Regions from separate parts of the Homo sapiens genome. Here region 1 is reported to be linked to region 2. Evidence: microRNA targets listed by miRTarBase, many of them from high-throughput screens and not tested one by one. Region 2 holds a microRNA gene; the other region holds the end of a gene's coding sequence.
What was found. Region 2 holds the annotated microRNA hsa-miR-3175 (CGGGGAGAGAACGCAGUGACGU, at 1,083-1,104, shown strand). A microRNA usually pairs through its seed, bases 2 to 8, with sites in the 3' UTR of a target mRNA and lowers its output. Matches are read on the target gene's strand: a 7mer-m8 pairs with bases 2 to 8, a 7mer-A1 pairs with bases 2 to 7 and ends in A, and an 8mer does both.

Region 1: miRTarBase lists NCS1 as a target of hsa-miR-3175. The part of its 3' UTR that is shown has no 7-base or 8-base seed match.

Annotation. Positions count from the first base shown.
Region 1 is chr9:130,225,777-130,229,776 of GRCh38, forward strand. NCS1 (neuronal calcium sensor 1) reads left to right here. Exons shown (of 8, transcript NM_014286.4): 7 at 613-728. The coding sequence ends at 711. Among named protein-coding and RNA genes, the nearest start is that of MIR12126, 14 kb to the right of the region's middle.
Region 2 is chr15:92,903,326-92,907,477 of GRCh38, forward strand. MIR3175 (microRNA 3175) reads left to right here and starts at 1,074; the gene lies at 1,074-1,150. The region is part of intron 2 of CHD2 (chromodomain helicase DNA binding protein 2); the gene reads left to right. RefSeq lists enhancers at 607-1,806, 668-847, 1,128-1,367 and a silencer at 918-967.

The sequences.
Region 1 (4,000 bases), not on the chromosome of region 2:
CCCTCTCTGGATACCCGAGATCGAGTAGGTGCTCTCCGTGGCCTTTTCCTTGTGGTCCGCCGGCTTCCTTGAGAGATGCTCCGGGGAAGGGATTCTGGCCCAAACATCCCCTCCCCGAGAGACCCACTAAAATTCCTCTTTCTGAGCCATGTCCAGCCCCCTGCCGGGTCTCCCAGGGTCCAGTGTGGGCTGCTCCAGGAGCAGTTTAAATGCCCTTCCAAGAGTGACCCCAGAGAACTGCACGAGGCTCTCAGCCTTGTCAGTTACTCACATTGATGGGGTTTAATAGCATTAACCATGACACGTGTGGAGTTACAGGGCACTTCCAGTTGGTCAAGCACAGAGCTGTCACCCGAGTGCCTGGAGGAAGCCAGGTAATTACCCTCCATCCCCAGGTGAAGAAACATGCCCAGAGAGGTGGGCCACGGCCCAAGGCCACCCTGCCATGAGTGCCGAGGTCTGTCTGGTGCTGGCTGCTTGTAGGCCCTGAGCCACGTTGCCTCCCTCCTGATCTAACCTTGGAAGGGCTCTTGGGACCGGCCCTGGGCTGGGCTTGTCTAGAGCCCTCTCCTGGGAGGCCCTGCACCCTCAGCCGCCTCTCTCTGCTCACAGAATGCCGACGGGAAGCTGACCCTGCAGGAGTTCCAGGAGGGTTCCAAGGCAGACCCGTCCATTGTGCAGGCGCTGTCCCTCTACGACGGGCTGGTATAGTCCCAGGCTGGAGCTGGGTGAGTGCAGACTCGGGGCCTGGGGTGGGTCTGGGATGGGTCAGGGGTGAAAACCCAGCAGCAGGACACCTACGGTTGGCAGGTAATTACCTGGGTCTCTGGGGGTGTTGTGGTCAGCCTAGCAGGGACATAGCTGGGAGGAGGAGGCTGGAAGGGGGGCCTTCAAATTGGTCAGAGCTCCTCTGTTTTGATCATTTTTATAGACCCAGATCAGCCTGCGAGTTTGCTTGAACAGAATTTTTCTGGGCGCGGTGGCTCACGCCTGTAATCCCAGCACTTTGGGAAGCTGAAGCAGGCGGATCACCAGGTCAGGAGTTCAAGACCAGCCTGACCAACATGGTGAAACCCCGTCTCTACTAAAAATACAAAAATCAGGCGGGCGTGGTGGTGCGCACCTAGTCTCAGCTACTTGGGAGGCTGAGGCAGGAGAACCGCTTGAACCCAGGAGGTGGAGATTGCAGTGAGCCGAGATCGTGCCACTGCACTCCAGCCTGGGTAACAGAGTGAGACTCCATCTCAAAAAAAAAAAAAAAAAGAAAAGAAAAAAAAAAAAAGAAAAGAATTGTCCTGGGTGGAAGACACTTTGAAAATTAGTTCCCAACCAGGGCCAGGGACCTGGGAGAGCAATTTCTTATCCCCTCTCTGAGCAGCCGGTTGAAGACCTAACTAAGCTCCTAGCTGTCACAGAATGATAGCACGCCTGGCAGAGGCCCCTGTTGCTGGTAGAGAGCTGTCTCCCTTCTTTCCTTCTCCTCTCCTCCCTTCTCCCCTTTTTTCCTGCCTCTTCTTTGTGGAGTGTTCAATGTAGTCTGCGGGGAGTGGGTGTGAATAACGTCCAAGGTATTGTCCAGAGATCAGCGTTCTTGTCCACGTCCTGGTGAACCAGTGGATGCCTGCTGTTGGTGTATATGTAAGGGTAGAATTGCTGGGACATAGGATATGTGTAATATTTAGCTTTGGTAGTTACTAGAAAACAGTTTCCAAAGTGGTTGTGCTGTTTTGCGGTCCCACTAGTAGTGTATGAGAGTTCCAGTTGCTCCACATCCTTGCCAACACTGGGTATTTTCTGTCTTTTCAAATTTTAGCCATTTTTGTGAGTATGGAGTAATAACTTGTTCTAAGTTTACTTTGCATTTCTCTGATAAGCAGTGACGTTGAATGCCTTGTTATAAGTGTATCACCCATTTTAATGTGCTCATTTGTGATGTGCTAGGTTAGTTATCCATTGCTACATATTACATTACCACAAACAGCAGCTTAAGAACAAACATTAGGAATTTGGCACAGTTAAGCTGGGTGCCTCTGGCTCAAGGACTCTCAGGAGTATGCAGTTCAGCTGTCAATAGGGTTTGCCCAGGTCTATCCTGGATTTAGCAGTGCAAGTTCCCTGTTCTAGGAAACTTCTCAGTCCCGGGAAAATTGGGATACTTGTCAGCCATTGGCCAGGGCTGTGGTCTCATCTGAAGGTTTGGCTGGTGATGACCTGCTTCCAAGCTCACTCATGTGGTTTGGCAGCCTTGTTCCCTTGCCATGTAGACACCTGCACAGGGCTGCCTCACAATATGGCTGCCGGCTTCCCTCAGAGCTTTCCAAGAGAGAAGGAGAGAAAGAGAGCCAGGATGAAAGCCAGTGTCTTTTTATAGCATAATCTTGGAAGTGATATCCATCACTTTTTCTTTTTCTTTCTTTTTTTTTTCTGCGACTGGGTCTCACTCTGTTACCCAGCCACCAGGTCATGGCTCACTGCAGCCTCAACCTCCCAGACTCAGACGAGCCTCCCACCTCAGCCCTCAGCTTTCCAAGTAGCTGGGACTACAGACATTTGCCACCATATCTGGCTAATTTAAAAAAAAAAGTGTTTTTTTTGTTTGTTTGTTTTGTTTTGTTTTTTTTCTGTAGTGTAGAGATAGAGTCTCACTATGTTGCCCAGGCTGGTCTGGAACTCTTGACCTCAAGTGATCCTCCTACCTCGGCCTCCCAAAGTGCTGAGATTACAGGTGTGAGCCACTGCACCCAGCCATAGATTGGTTTTTGAATGCTAAGTCACCTTGCATTCTTAGAATAAACTCCACTTTGCTGTGATGTGTTATTTTTTTATGTATCATAAAATTTGATTTGTTGGCATTTTGTTTAGGAGGTCTACACTGTTTTTTTCTTTCTTTCTTTCTTTTTTTTTTTTTGAGACAGGGTCTCACTCCATCACCTAGGCTGGAGTGCAGTGACATGATTTCAGCTCACTGCAGCCTCTGCCTCCTGGGTTCAAACAATTCTCCTGCCTCAGCTTCCCGAGTAGCTGGGACTATAGGCACCTGCCACCATGGCGCCTGGCTAATTTTTCCATTTTTAGTAAAGATGGGGTTTCACCATCTTGGCTAGGCTGGTCTCGAACTCCTGACCTCAGGTGATCCACCCACCTCAGCCTCCCAAAGTGCTGGAACTGCAGGCGTGAGCCACCATGCCTGGCCAGGCCTACACTGTTTTGAAGCGTCTGTTATTATTATTATTATTTTTCACAAGAAATCCTTTTTCATTGAAGAGACATTGAAAATATGTTTAATGAGAAAACCTCAATTAAAAAGTTTATTTTAAAAAAAACCCCTTATGTATGACTCAGATATAATCACAGTGAACATTTTAGTGTCCAGAGTGATTTTAAAAGAATTGAACACTTACAAAACTTAACACTCAGTAAACTGAGTCACACAGAAATTATATAATTAAAACCAATTTATAAAGGAACTATCACTGTTATTAATATTTCTTTTTTTTTTTTTTTCCAAGATGGAGTCTCCCAGGCTGGAGTGCAGTGGCGTGATCTTAGCTCACTGCAACCTCTGCCTCCTGGGTTCAGACAATTCTCATGCCTCAGCCTCCCAAGTAGCTGGGATTACAGGTGCTTGCCACCACGCCCGGCTAATTTTTGTACTTTTAGTAGAGATGGGGTTTCAGCATGTTGGACAGGCTGGTCTCGAACTCCTGACCTTGTGATCCACCCACCTCAGCCTCTCAAAGTGCTGGGATTACAGGTGTGGGCCATCGCGCCTGGCCAATATTTCCATCATAGAAATGTTTGACGTGTACCTTGACATGTCCCATGGTGAATGCTGATCCGTTGTCTAATTTTTCACAGTCCTCTTTTGCAAATCACCATGTCATATTATTTCCATGACAAGCTTGTCAAAGTGACAAGAGCCCTCGCATGATATGATCCCCCTTTCTATTAGCTCTGCTGGGAAATGGCCTTCTTTCTTCTATAGGGCTGTTCCTTGTGC
Region 2 (4,152 bases):
ACTACGAAAATCACCTTTGCAGCCTGAGCCACAGAAGAGGAAATGAGTTTGCAGGTCAAGTAAACTTTGGTCTGAGAATTACTTTAGTATCTGGAAAGAATGAGTGCAAGTTTAGGTAAATCTGGTAATACCCTGTTTTTGGAAATAGTGCAGTAGTTAATAGTGGTTATATAAGTTTGTATTTTAATTTGAAGTTAATGCTAAAGTCTGTTATACTTTATCACGATTTTTGAAAATTAAAAACTTTAAAAAACGCGATTTTAAAAACATTTGATTGATATTTGTAAAATTTCTAAGTATTTAAAACAAAGTTCTAATGATGGACATACGAGAAGTATACCATACTTTTTATCTGAATAATTTGCAGCTTGGGGATAACTTAAGTAACATCAAAGAATGAAAACGGGACTGTGTGCACACAAAGAGTTCAGTGTGTTCTCCACGGCACCACGTTAGCAATTTATCTTAAGAATTGAACGAGTTTATTAAATTTATCTCCAAATCGTCTGCCTTTGAGCCAGATTTATTTTTATAACCTGAGGTGCGGGTAAATCCTACAATTTTCAGGGGCGCTTTACCAGATATTCTAAAAGGCTGGGGATGATTAGAAATGGCATAATGCAGTTACTTGTGTACTAGAACAGGCAGTTTAACTGGCAGCCATTTTATGACGCTGATAATACATTAAAAAACGGGATTTTGGAGAAGACTGAATCTAAACTAATAGAAATCTGAAATACCAAAGCCTATTTCCTTCCCCCTCTCTGCTCTTCTGGGGAACTCTGGTGCCGACATAAAAGGCAGTTCGATAGGGCACGCAGCAGCTCTTTGAGCCCCTGGCATCTTGATGCAGGTCCAGCTCAGTCACAAAATGGCTGTTCCTTTGTGCCGCAGCGCTGACAGACATACTGCATTGCACTGTGTACTCGCCAAACAGCAGGAAGTTGCCGTGCCGAGTTCAAAGGCCGGCCGGCGCCGGCGCGGGGTGCTGATTGGCTGTGCGCGCGCCTGGTAACAGCAGGGTCAACGGCGGCGCCTTCGGCAGCCTCCGCCCCGTGACGTCAGACGGCTCCCCTGGGGGGCGGGGAGAGAACGCAGTGACGTCTGGCCGCGTGCGCATGTCGGGCGCTTTCTCCTCCCCCTACCCAGGGAGCCGCACGCCGAGGGGAAAAGGAAGGGAACTCTAGTTGGGACTTTCCGGTGGGCGGCTTCTTTCCTGGACGCGTTTGCTCCTGGCAGTCTTGTCCGCCCTTGCCTGTAGCGGTCCGCACCCTGTAGTGTGTTCTTTTGCCCATTTCCGGGAATGGTTTATCCTCTTTGAGAAGCGGCTGCTTTTGGAGAAAAAGTGCAGGCACTATTTATAAATTTTAAAGGCACTATTTGGAAATCTTAAAATAGAAAATTTGCCCAGTTTTACATTTTCCCTTTTCATACCTTAGCGTCCCTTCTCCCCGCCCCCGTTCAGTGTGAAGAGATGAGTGGGTTTAATTTTGTTACAATTGACCAAAACGTTTGAGTGTCAGAGGCGGATACTTTTATTTTAGTGAAAACCTCTTGACGGGTGTTAACAGCTGTTTAATACATGGCTCATAAACAAAGGGAAGATTATTTGAACTTGTCCCCATGCGTTTTTACTTGGTACCGTACATTTTCTCAGTTGGCATTTGATGGAGAAAAACTCAGGTCAGTATGTGCTAAGTACTATATATTTAAGATTCACAGTGGGATAGTTTAGTAGAAAATAGAAAATTTCACGTTCAATAACATTAAAAAGTGGCAGAATACAGCGTTAGGCAACCATTACTATGTAAGTAAATGTCAGAAAACTACTCTTTTAAGTGTTAATAGCACTTGCTAATGCAGGGTGACTGACAGCTTGGCTGATAGTGGGGTCACTTGGCCAAATCTTCGCAATTATCTTCCCTAGGCCTCCATTTCGGGAATTCTGAGTCCCGGTAAACGGTTGGGTTTATGCTCACTGATTTGCCTTGTTTGGAAACCTTTACAAGGATTTCTGGTTAAAACTTCATCGTTCAGCAACGATGTCTTAATAATTAAATTACACATACTGAATTTAAGCAAGCAAGAAATTCAGTGGATTTATCTACTGTGGACAAAGTTTTTTTCCTGCCATACTAGAGTTTTTTTAGCAGTTGGAGTAGGCTGTCCTGTAGTTAGCCATAGTTTAGAGTTATTTTAGTAAAGTGTGTTACTTCAAAGGAGATGTTGACCCTTCAGTGCAGGTGATATTTGCTTGGGCGTATGTCAAGTTTCTGAATACAGTCTGTGAAAGTTAGAATTCACTATGATAGTGAGTTTTGTAGGTTCTCATAATCTAGGTTCTTTGGGAAGAATTATTTGGATAGTTTGTGAAAACTAGCTGAAATTGCTTTTTCTGTTACAGAGAAGTGTTCATCAAATAATTTGTACCTGATTTTAAAATTATATGCTCAAATGTATATTGCGTATAAAATGCTAACAGAGAATTAAGTGTTTATAGAACTTGATGAACGTTTAACTGTAGCTTCCAACTTAAAGTATACCTGCCACAAGAACGAAAGTAATAATCTCACCTCCCTTTTTGTGTAGAGACTGAATTCTAATTAGTTGTGTTAATAGTATTTGCTGAATACCTTTCAATTCCTAAAACTGGGGTCAAAGTAGTCAACATTGCAGTTAATTATTTTTGAAGAGGATATGAACTATTCTGTTATTTAAGATATTTTAACCTAAATACCATTATGAGTTAAAATGCATACCATGATATAACAATTTACCTATTAACTGTTGACAATCTTGCAGCCAATTAAGTTTTTTATAGAACCAGTGTTCTTAGGTATGTTTGTTGAGCCTTCTACTTTTTTTCCCTTTGATGTGGGGAATAGCATCAAGCAGCAAGAAAAGAGTGTTGATCGATTTCTCTCTCTTTCTCTCTCTCTCTCTGTATCCTTGCCGTTTAAAATATGCACTTTCCAACTAGTATTTGGCCGTTAGGGAGTTAGTATCTTTGTAAAGATTAAGTCAGCAGAGGAAGGTGGGCAAATAATATTTTTGATAAAGACTTTTGGTTGTGACAGTTGTAGCAAGTTATTGCTTGAGGAGTGAATCTGGAAGTTTATTTGAATTTTAACTAAAACTCACAGATTTTATCATTAGTTTACTCTCCCTTACCCCCAAATAAAACAACTGACAGTTATGAGAGACCTCCTGAGACCACCTGGTATTTCCAAACTCCTATCATTTCTCCCATAAAATTTGATACACTAAGTTTGTTTCTGGTATAAAAATTGAGTGACTGCTCTGTGTCAGCCATTAAATTTTTTCTTGCTATGAGCCATCTTTTTTTTTTTTTTTTTTTTAAGATCCTTTAGTTTTTAGCTGCTTCTTGGTAACCTTAGAACTTTGCTTCCTTGAAGAACTTGGCTTTCTTGATATGGTGTCACTTGAACAAAGAAACTTAAAAAAAAATTCCTCTAAGAGTATTTTGTGTACAGGTGAAAGTAACTTTGTGGCTTGGTTACACTGGGTGTGTCACAGCTGAGTAACTCCCTCCTGCACTTCAGCTTGACTAAGCGTTGAGTTCACATGTATACCTTTGCAAAGCTGCCATTCACAACTTGTTTTGGAACTTTAGGGTTATCAGTATAAAGCCTGAGTAACAAAACTTAGTCATCCAATGTCCAGGCTGGATTGTATTTTTATTTTGTGATCAGTAATTCAGCACAATGCTGGAACACATTACTCACATTTGTCTTATGACCCTTTTCTGTAATCAATGGAATCTTTAATTGATAAAGCAAGTCTAGGGGGAGAGACATTTTTTAAAAAAAGCTCCTATATACTGAATATATTTGAGCCCTGATTATGAAGTGAGGGACAAGGCTTTTCTTTTTGAAATAAATGATGGAGGACATAGATATGTGGTAGCCATTCATGCTACATAATTTAGCATTTTATTGTTAATATGTTTGGTTATGGGTCTTCTTGTTTGGTATTTCAACATGTTCTGGACTGGATATCATACTGAAAAGTATTTCAGTTCTCATTACTGAGTCCCTGTAGTTTGGGGAAAATGTGATCACTGATCTTGAAGGAGAGAATGTTTCAGAAGCATCCGGCTAAGGCAGGATTGTAGAGATAGTCTTGATTTTA